2 separate regions of the Homo sapiens genome follow, and region 1 is linked to region 2. Evidence: fine-mapped expression QTL. A gene starts in region 2. The other region holds a variant in brackets. All regions are shown on one strand. Distances are between the middles of the regions. Region 1 overlaps GPNMB (glycoprotein nmb). Region 2 holds the start of NUP42 (nucleoporin 42).

Region 1 (5,384 bases), 77 kb after region 2:
CTACTTTTAAACTAGTTATGAAAAAAATACGAAAAAGTGTTTAATTCAGTGATGCATGCACATTGGGTTTTCTGAGCCTAGATAACACTCATGGCTGGTTTCTATCTCTGTTTAGAGGCTGGTTTATCTGCTGATCCGTATGTTTACAACTGGACAGCATGGTCAGAGGACAGTGACGGGGAAAATGGCACCGGCCAAAGCCATCATAACGTCTTCCCTGATGGGAAACCTTTTCCTCACCACCCCGGATGGAGAAGATGGAATTTCATCTACGTCTTCCACACACTTGGTTGGCTTTTACAAACCCCTAAGCTTCTTCTTTACCTTTCCTTAAAATTTCAACCTTCTCTTTTCTTACTCTATAATTGAGAATGATAACACAGAGAGTTAATAACAGTCACCCTGCTAACTTTCCTTAGCATGAGTGAACAGTGAGAGATAAAAATGAAATCTTGGTTAACCTTGCCAAATCTCCAGGACACCGAAGAGTTAAAAAGAGAGAAAAACAAAAAGATTAAGCTCTTTTTCAAAAAAACAAAACCACTTAATTTTTTTCTACCTAAAACCATAACAAGAAAAAATGCTAACACTTATTTATTTGAATGGCACATGGAGACCGGGCATGTGGCTCACACTTGTAATCCCAGCACCTTGGAAGGCGGAGGCGGGTGGATCACCTGAAGTCAGGAGTTCAAGACCAGCCTGGCCAACATGGTGAAGTCCCGTCCCTACTAAAAATACAAAAATTAGCCAGGTGTGGTGGTGCGCACCTGTAATCCCAGCTACTCAGGAGGCTGAGGCAGGAGAATCACTTGAATCCGGGAGGTGGAGGTTGCAGTGAGAGGAGATTGAGCCATTGCACTCCAGCCTGGGCAACAGAGTGAGACTCCATCTCGAAAAACAAACAAACAAACAAAAAACAGAATGGCACATTGATGAGCATTCATTGATTGATTCTTTAGTTTTTTTATGTTCTCTAAAGAATTTTTAAGATTTAAAGAAGCATGTGCTATTTATTTGTAGGAAATCCTCAGAAAAGGTACAAATAAAAAATAAAAATTATCCATAATTAATACCAGAGATTATAATTGTTAATTATTATGGTGTTTTCTTTGCTAGTATTTAAGATCATTATTAAGATCACATACACATTTTTGCTTACTATCATTAGCATTTGATGATATGATTTTTTTAATTTTTATACATTGTTTTAATGGCTGCACGATATTTCATTGTGTACAAATAAAATAACTACTGTTCCGCTTTGACCTAGCCCATTCTGTCTTTTTTTAAATTACAAATGGTATTCATTTTGTTGTATTATTGGGGAAATGATTACTTTTAGAAGGAGCAAATTGAGCTTATTATTAATTAGGCTGCTAAATTCTTAGTTTAAAATGTCACTAGGTGCCACCTGGCACTGAGTATTTGAAAATTGCTACCAATCAAGCAGCCTCCAGATTACTAAATATTTCATCTTTCATCACAGATTAGAGAGAGCTCCTCTTCCTTCAATTAACTTATTTACAAATCAGGACAAAATATTAACAATACATACCCATTGAACAGAGTATAAGCTATGTCAAATATTATGCTCATCTATATAAATCAATTGCCTTAAAGCTAACTTATTTTTCACTGCCATTACGACCCCATTAGCCAACTCACCAAACATTTCTTTGACTTGTCACTCTCATGACAGAATTCTGACATTTTGCATGGAGTCACTTATGTTCACTAACACTCGCCGACTCTTTAGCCTAGTAAACATTCCAATAACTTAACCAGATCAAATGTCTGTATTTAAAATCAACTTTCAGCCTAGAACTTGCTCTGTTTGTCTAACAAGACTGCCTTGAATTTCTGTCTTCCACTGAGGTCTCAGAGTTAACTGATATTCTCCCTCAACTAAGTATGGTCTCACCTCTCAGAGCTGAAACTAACATTTTCCTCACGAATAACCCCTGAGAGACATCTCTTCCCCTTATAACTTCTGATGGAACTACCCCTGCATCTCAACGTGAAGGAGGATTCCAAACCACACATCCCTGGAGAGACCAGTGTGTTTTTCTCACACGTTTGACGGTGTGATACACGGGGTCTTGAAACAACCCGGTCTCAAAAGCATGCAACCTAAGATACCCAGTCAGTGACAGGTCTAAACCAGGCCCCCTGGCAGGATTAGAAAAGTTCTTGATTTGGGAATGATAGTAAGAGGAGTTACAGAGTTTTAAAATTTGTTTAAATGTCCTTGAGCCCTGAAGGAGAGGAATTACTTCCACCTGTTAGCTAGCAGCAGGGAGGGTTGGACAAAGAAAAGGAATGACTCAGGGGTGTCCTAGGAAAGTGCCTGTGGAACCACCCCATTCTGTTTTATGTCTGCCATCCTCTATTTCATCACTTACGGGATTTTTATTTTTATTTTTTTGAGACAGAGTCTCGCTCTGTCACCAGGCTGGAGTGCAGTGGTGTGATCTCAGCTCACTGGAATCCCCGCTCCGGGTTTAACCAATTCGTCTGCCTCAGCCTCCCGAGTAGCTTGGATTACAGGCTCGTACCACCACACCTAGCTAATTTTTTGTATTTTAGTAGAGATGGAGTTTCAC[C/T]ATGTTGGCCAGGATGGTCTCCATCTCCTGACCTCGTGATCCGCCTGCCTCGGCCTCCCAAAATGCTGGGATTACAGGCATGAGCTACCGCGCCCAGCCACTTGCTGTATTTTTATATACAAATACTATTAGGAGATGGAGGATTCCAGTCCCCTTTTAAAAATCCACTTAATAATATAGCGGAAATAGTAACAAAAATAAGGTAGGTTATTGGATAAATAATTTTTTTAACTCTTCTGGACACCTCATCATTATATTAAATGTATTTTCTATGGGGAAAACATGTATTTCAAGTGCCAAATTACTTAGCACAAACAGCATTTATTTGTAAACTAAGGGCTAACTGTTTTATGCCACTAAACAGCTTTTTAAATTTTAACCAACTGTATACAATTACATGTATACAACTGTGGGTTTGTTTTATAAGATTTTACATTAAAATGAGCACCATCTCCCTTTCTGAAGCAGCACCACAGGCCCATCCTATTTTCCCTCCTCAGAGCAATCTATAAATGGTGGTAGCTAGTCTTTAAGGAACAGCTTCCTATAATGATGATATAATGCAGCCAATAACTAAAAATTTCCATCCTCCCAAAGGTCAGTATTTCCAGAAATTGGGACGATGTTCAGTGAGAGTTTCTGTGAACACAGCCAATGTGACACTTGGGCCTCAACTCATGGAAGTGACTGTCTACAGAAGACATGGACGGGCATATGTTCCCATCGCACAAGTGAAAGATGTGTACGTGGTAACAGGTGAGTGGTGTGAACTCTAACTGAGGATGAGGCACTTCATTCTGTTGACGTCAATGGGTTAAAAAAGAGGTAAGGCCAAGTGTTCGGGGTTAGGTTACAATGCATCTGGCCCACCTAAGCTTGTGTATTTAATTAGTTGTAGTTCATCTGTTTTCCAGAATAGCTTAGGGAAACCCCAGAAAACTTGCATGTGAAAAGGAAAATAATGCTAAATTATCCCTCATTTTAATATTTCAACCTAAAAGCATCGTCGAAGCCCTCCACTTACAATCAAGCAATCATGCATTCTTTATTTCTTTGGGGGATGTATCTTTTAGATCAGATTCCTGTGTTTGTGACTATGTTCCAGAAGAACGATCGAAATTCATCCGACGAAACCTTCCTCAAAGATCTCCCCATTATGTTTGATGTCCTGATTCATGATCCTAGCCACTTCCTCAATTATTCTACCATTAACTACAAGTGGAGCTTCGGGGATAATACTGGCCTGTTTGTTTCCACCAATCATACTGTGAATCACACGTATGTGCTCAATGGAACCTTCAGCCTTAACCTCACTGTGAAAGCTGCAGCACCAGGACCTTGTCCGCCACCGCCACCACCACCCAGACCTTCAAAACCCACCCCTTCTTTAGGTAAGGTTTCGCAGTGATCTTTGAGGGAGGCTCCTTAATGGCTAACAAAATATTCACGCAGGTCATATTATTAAATCCCTCCTTAAGGGGATATTGTAAGGACTCTGCGGTGATTCCATTTTCTACCTGTTGATTTTTTAAAGCAAAGTTATCACCATTTTACACCTATAGAACACAGAAGAAGGAAGAATGTATGTAAAGTCACTTTGCAAATAGAATTCAGTGACTTGTAGAAAGTTCTTTGACCCTCCTCATTTGCACTGGTCCCTGCTATGTGTACACACTCTCCCCTCTTCTAACCTGTCACATTTTTGTTTATCTCCCATTTTTTATGGCTATGAGAAGGCACACTGGCTCCTTATACGATCAGGTCATTTCTATGTTCCTTCCTCTCCCCCACTAATTTCTTTCCCTACCCTGCCCACACCTACCCAGTGTCCATGAAAACACAGCTGTACTTGAAAGCAATTTCCAAATGGTCCAAGAAAGAATGTAGCTTGAGAGTATGTCTGGGTTAGCAAGCTGCAGTGACTCCTGACATTAAAATTGTGCTGCATCGTATGTTTATTGCGGCACTATTCACAATAGCAAAGACTTGGAATGAACCCAAATGTCCATCAATGATAGACTGGATTAAGAAAATGTGGCACATATACACCATAGAATACTATGCAGTCATAAAAAAGGATGAGTTCATGTCCTTTGTAGGAACATGGATGAAGCTGGAAACCATCATTCTGAGCAAACTATCACAAGGACAGAAAACCAAACGCCGCATGTTCTCATTCACAGGTGGGAACTGAACAATGAGAACACTTGGACACAGGGCGGGGAACATCACACACCAGGGCCTGTCGGGGGGTAGGGGTAGGGAGGCGGGATGGCATTAACAGAAATACCTATTGTAAATGACGAGTTAATGGGTGCAGCACACCAACATGGCACATGTATACATATGTAACAAACCTGCACTTTGTGCACATGTACCCTAGAACTTAAAGTAAAATTTAAAAAAAAGAGAAAAATAAATAAAAATAAAACTGTGCTGCATTTAAGGCATGATTAATTCAATACCACCCTATATTAATAGTCTGGGGACATTCAAGAAGTCCTTAAGAGTCCACTTTGGGTAGCACTGGCTTCCATCTGATTCCCCACGCTACCCCATGCCATCACCACCCTTTTCCCACTGGGCCAGTTGCACTCAGCACCCCAGGATCCTGGGGATAGCAATAGGCTGACATCCTCTCACTGGTCACAAGAGGGCGCCAGGGACCAAGCCCACGACGGTCCATCATGACGTCTGGGGCTTCTTGTTTTTACAAAATCCTGTTTGTTATAAATTATAAAGTTTTACAATAAGATGTTAGTAATAAAATGAGAGCTT
Region 2 (5,384 bases):
CCAGAAAGTAAAAAAGTGCTCAAGTAATCATGGGGAATTTTTTTTTCTCCTTTTTCGAATGTGTAAAGGAGCTTAAAGGGGGTCCCATTGGCCAAATTGGAGATGATCTGAGCATCAAAATAAATAATGATAGTAATGGATTATAACCCATTGAATAACATTGGAAATCATGAGTCCATACTGATATAAATAAATAAGTGAATGAGCTAAAAGTTGGATGAACAATCAGATTTTTATATACTTTCAAAGTACCTCCCCACAAAATTCTTATTAATAACAAAAAGGAAAAGAATAACTTTATGGTAGAGCAGCTTGGCAGACACCACCTTAAGCAAGTAATCCATTGAGCATTACAGGTAACAGGACAAATTGAAATTGTGCACAACCTGCAATGTGAAAACCGCAGCATCACTTCTGTGATAATCCTGACAAAGATGCATAATCTGAATCTAATCAAGAGAAAACATCAAACAGACCTGCACTAAGGAACCTCTACAGTATAAGCAGCCTGTAGTCTTTAATAGTGTCAAGGTCATGAAAAGGAAAAACAAAAAATCTTCCAAATTGAAGGAGACACAAGAAATATGACTAAGCAACAATGATTCCGAACTGAACCCTTTTCCTCTAAAGGACAATATTGGGACATTTGGCAAAACATAAATGGAGTCTAAGGATTAGAGAGTAGTAGTGCATCAGTATCAATGTCCTAATTTTGTTGGCTGTGTTGTGGTTATGTAGAATGCCCTGGTTTGTTTGTAGAAAATATACAATAAGTATTTGGATCATGGGGCATTAGGTCTGCAACATAGTCTCAAATGGTTCAGGAAAAAAGTTCTTTGTACTGTTATTTGTAACTTTTCCATAAATTTGTTTCAAAATAAATGAATTGCATTGATTAAAGAAAATAAAAAACTAGTTTGGACAAGTAGTTCCCGTCCTGTAGATTCTGCTGTCTTCAAAATCCAAACAAATTACATGAGCAAGAATGATGGCTCACTCCCAGCTCAATAATCCTAAAACCACCAGCACAAACCTGTAATCCAACAAAGTCAGATCTATTGACTTATTGCAATCAAGAAGACTGCACACCAGAGGAGCTGTGGTGTGTCTCACCGTACAAAATAAAAGGTAGTTATTGTATGTTTTGGCGGGGAGAGTGAAGTTTAGGTGAAATTTAAATGAAATCTCAAAGCATAGCTGTGTGTAAAGGCATTAACATCAGGTCTGGACGAGAATTGAATGTAGGGCATGTTTCCTTGGAAACTGCAAAGTTAAGAAAATACAGAATGTTTTCAGAACCGTTTATCTGAAGCTCTACACCTGGATAGAAATTGAGGCTGCTTCTCTGCGTCAAAGAGACTTAGATCCTCCAGGCAAGGATGGGACTTTTCACTCGTTCTGATATAATTTCAAATAGCAACGTTTATGTGGACTTGAAAGAACAAGGTTTCGGCCAGACGCGGTGGCTCACACCTGTAATCGCAGCACTTTGGGAGGCGGACGCGGGCGGATCACGAGGTCAGAAAATAGAGACCATCCTGGCTAACACGGTGAAACCGTGTCTACTAAAAATACAAAAAAATTAGCCGGGCGTGGTGGCGGGCACCTGTAGTCCCAGCTACTCGGGAGGCTGAGGCACGAGAACGGCATGAACCTTGGAGGCAGAGCTTGCCTCCAAGCTCTGCCACTGTACTCCAGCCTGGGCGACAGAGCGAGACTCCGTCTCAAAAAAAAAAAAAAAAAAGAAGAAATAACAAGGTTTCTCAGTGTGTAGTAAGAATGTACTTAAGTGGTAATACTTTTCCGTTGCAGCATGTCCTAAAAGAAACATTGTTTCCTCTTAACGTCGTCTGGCTTTATTTGACTCTGTTATCCATCCAGATGAAAGGCTAGGCAGTTTGTTACTTTCTCAGCCCAAGCTAAGTTTTACCGTCTCAGCAAGAACGACTCAGTCTCTCAAATCATAGCTAATTCTCCTCTGAGGGCCTTGCTGAAGTTCTGCGTTTGCTTGCTCCGCTTTCCTCTCATTTTGGACCTCCAGCCTTCCTGTAGTCCGAGGCCCTGCACCGGGGTCAAACGCGCCTCCGGTCTTCACGTAACCGTTCAAGCATCCCTCCTTCCCAGGACACACTCAAAGCGTCAGAGCGGTCCGCTCTTCTCAAGTCCTATTGGCTCAAGTCCATGCGTCTCATGGCACTGCCGGGTGAGAGGCGGAAAAAGGCCTTCCCAGGCGCGAGAAGATGACGTCACAGTAGCCCGGCCGGGCGCCGAGGTTGCCTTAGGGCTCTCTGCCCAGTAACAGGCATCGAACGGTGCAGACTGAAGACGCCCTCCGTCAGCGACGCCGTCGCAATGGCCATTTGTCAATTCTTCCTTCAAGGCCGGTGCCGCTTTGGAGATCGGTGCTGGAACGAACATCCCGGTGCTAGGGGTGCAGGAGGAGGACGGCAGCAACCGCAGCAGCAGCCTTCAGGTGACTCTCCTCTGAATCCTCCGCGGTAACCGAGCCGGGAAGGGTCCGCCGGCGGGGACCGGGCGTCCCGCGTGTTTCCCGCTGCTGGTGACCCCAACGTGCCCGCGTCGCGGCCTTGCCGGCCCTACTGGGCCCTGCACAACGTTTTTAAACCGAGGGTTTTATCTACATATTATTCATGTGGTCCGTTTTTATTGAGCTTCTGAGGACCTGGGTTTGGGCCTGGATGCTTGTGCGAAACTGAGTTTTTAAATCGGAAGTACCTATCGAAACTACCTTGTAGGTAAATGCCGGAATTGAATATAATTTTTACTAAGTTGTTTTTTCGAGGGTGAGGCTAGCAGCTTGGGTCAGAATCAGGACTTCATTTTGGAGAAGTCGTGGACTTCTTTGAAAAAATCTAATAAAACCGGCCGGGCGGTGGCTCACGCCTGTAATCCCAGCACTTTGGGAGGCCGAGGCGGGCGGATCACGAGGTCAGGAGTTTGAGACCAGCCTGACCAACATAGTGAAACACCGTCTTTACTAAAAATACCAAAAAAAAAAAAAAAAAAAAAAATAGCCGGGCGTGGTGGCGCGCGCCTGTAATCCCAGCTACTCATGAGGCTGAGACAGGAGAATCGCTTGAACCCGGGAGGTGGAGGTTGCAGTGGGCCGAGATCGTGCCACTGCACTCCAGCCTGGGCGACAGAGCGAGACTATCAAAAAAAAAAAAAGAAAGAAAGAAAAGAAAAAAAGAAAATCTAATAAAACCTATAGAGCCATACCGCAAAAATGCACCTGCTCATAAATTTGGGGTGAAATTGGGAATGTGGGACGCCCAGTTAAGGGCTATCCGGGAGGTGAGGAAAGGAGATGCGGGGGCCACGTTGATCTAGTCCCTGGGCCTAGATCATTGTCAAAGCTTTTTATCTTCAAGGAAAGGAGAGATTAGACATGAAACCTTAGAACAACACAAGATTTTTAAAGATCGGGTTAATAATTCGGTGCTGTCTCCCTTCCTTCCCCTCCTTTAGGGCTATTCATCTGACCTTTATTTTTTTATTTTATTTTGAGACGGAGTCTTGCTCTCTCAGTCAGGCGGCTCACTGCGACCTCCGCCTCCCAGGCTCAAGCGATTCTTATGCCTCAGTCTCCCGAGTAGCTGGGATTACGGGTGCCCGCCACCATGCCCTTGATAATTTTTGTATTTTTAGTAGAGACAGGGTTTTGCCATTTTGGCCATACCGGTCTCGAACTCGTGACCTAAGGTGATACTCCCGCTTCCGTCTTTCAAAGTGCTGGGATTACAGGCGTGAGCGACCGCGGCGGGCCTCATCTAACCTTTAAACCTTGTATTGCGTGATGGTTTCACGTCTGATCCCACTTCAGGGAAGACAGTCCTTTTATTTCCTCCACAATTAATCTAGTGAAATATTTCAGACCGAAAATTAGGACTCATGTCTGATGAATGTGAGTGTAAACAAAATTTGGCAGACAAATTGTATTTAGCTCCCAGAAACAAATGAATGTTTCTGGAATTATAAGTATGAAGACCAAAAGCAATGTAAAAAAAAAAAAAAAAAAAAAAAAGGAGGAAGTGAGTTTCTTCAGTTGTATCATCCCCCAGTGAATTTGGAACTTTAGAAGAAGAAGATACCATTAACTTCTACTTGAGGGATCTGGTCTAGCAATCTCCACTTTTTTTTTTTTTTTTTTTAGGGTAGTTTAGAGTTGCAGGATGAACTTTCACAACTGGGCATGTGTGTCATTCTAACTTTTAATATAATTAATGGCTTATCTCTTTATTCAGTCAGAAACAAGATGAATTACCTTAATCTTGGCCCCAACTAGGAAGTGATGAGTAAATGAGATTGCTAAAATGATTTTAAAAAACAAAACAAAACCAATATATAAAGAGAGGAGAGAATCTTTTTGGCTCATTTTGATATTTATGAAATATTGGAAAGCTGGTAGAGGAACTACATGCATTCTGTACACATGTAAATACCATGTATAATCTCTCTGTGAAAATAGGTGTGTAGGTGTTTGCCCAGAGAAAAGACTGCGTCAAATAGACTTAAGCATCTGTACAAAAACAGAGGGTAGAATGTAATCTTTCATATTCGAGAAACTTTAATTCAATGTCCATTTTTCAGCCTTTACTACAGTATAGGGCCTGGTGGGGGAGCAAAGAATGATAAAAACCCAAGTTTTTATCCTGAAGGAGTTTATGATTTATGATGCATGCCTTCTGTCAACTTTTAACTATCAAGCAGTTGTTCATTTAATAAGCTTTGTCAGCTGAATTTAGTAATATATCACTATTTTTCTATATTATTTTCTTCTCAATCTCAAACAAAAATGCAATTGGCCACTATGTGATTTGTTGATATTACAACCTAACTACTGTATATAAATAAAAAATGAAGAGATTGTCATTTAAAATGAGTTTAAATGTAGTGCTTGTTGAATCTTTCTATATTGTCTAGACATACTAAGATATAATGAAGATTTTTGAGATTTTAAAGAACAGTTGCTGGGCACAGTAGCTCATGCCTATAATTCCAGCACTTTGGGAGGCTGAGGCAGGTGGATCTCTTGAGCCCAGGAGTTTGAGACCAACCCCGGGCAATATGGCAAGACCTTATCTCTACAAAAAGTACAAAAATTAGCCAGACATGGTGGTTTGCGCCTGTGGTCCCAGCTACTCAGGAGGCTGAGGTGGGAGGATCGATTGAGCTTAGGAGGTTGAGGTTACAGTGAGCCAAGATCATGCCACTGTACTCCACCCTGGGCAAAAGAGTGAGACCCTATCTCAATTAAAAAGAAAATAGAAAGAAAAGTTGCTAGTAAAATTATTTTGTTTTATTGTTTATTTTAGGTAATAATAGACGTGGATGGAATACAACTAGCCAGAGATATTCCAATG

The links.
Region 1: its variant is fine-mapped to the expression of NUP42 in whole blood (TOPMed, PIP above 0.99).

Annotation. Positions count from the first base shown.
Region 1 is chr7:23,256,777-23,262,160 of GRCh38, forward strand. It overlaps GPNMB (glycoprotein nmb), which reads left to right. Exons shown (of 11, transcript NM_002510.3): 4 at 116-289; 5 at 3,204-3,362; 6 at 3,680-3,997. Among named protein-coding and RNA genes, the nearest start is that of GPNMB, 13 kb to the left of the region's middle. RefSeq lists a silencer at 2,001-2,201. The variant C/T (reference allele first, on the strand shown) is at 2,607.
Region 2 is chr7:23,179,734-23,185,117 of GRCh38, forward strand. NUP42 (nucleoporin 42) reads left to right here and starts at 2,315. Exons shown (of 7, transcript NM_007342.3): 1 at 2,315-2,473; 2 at 5,337-5,384. The coding sequence starts at 2,353. RefSeq lists enhancers at 1,910-2,509, 2,610-2,679.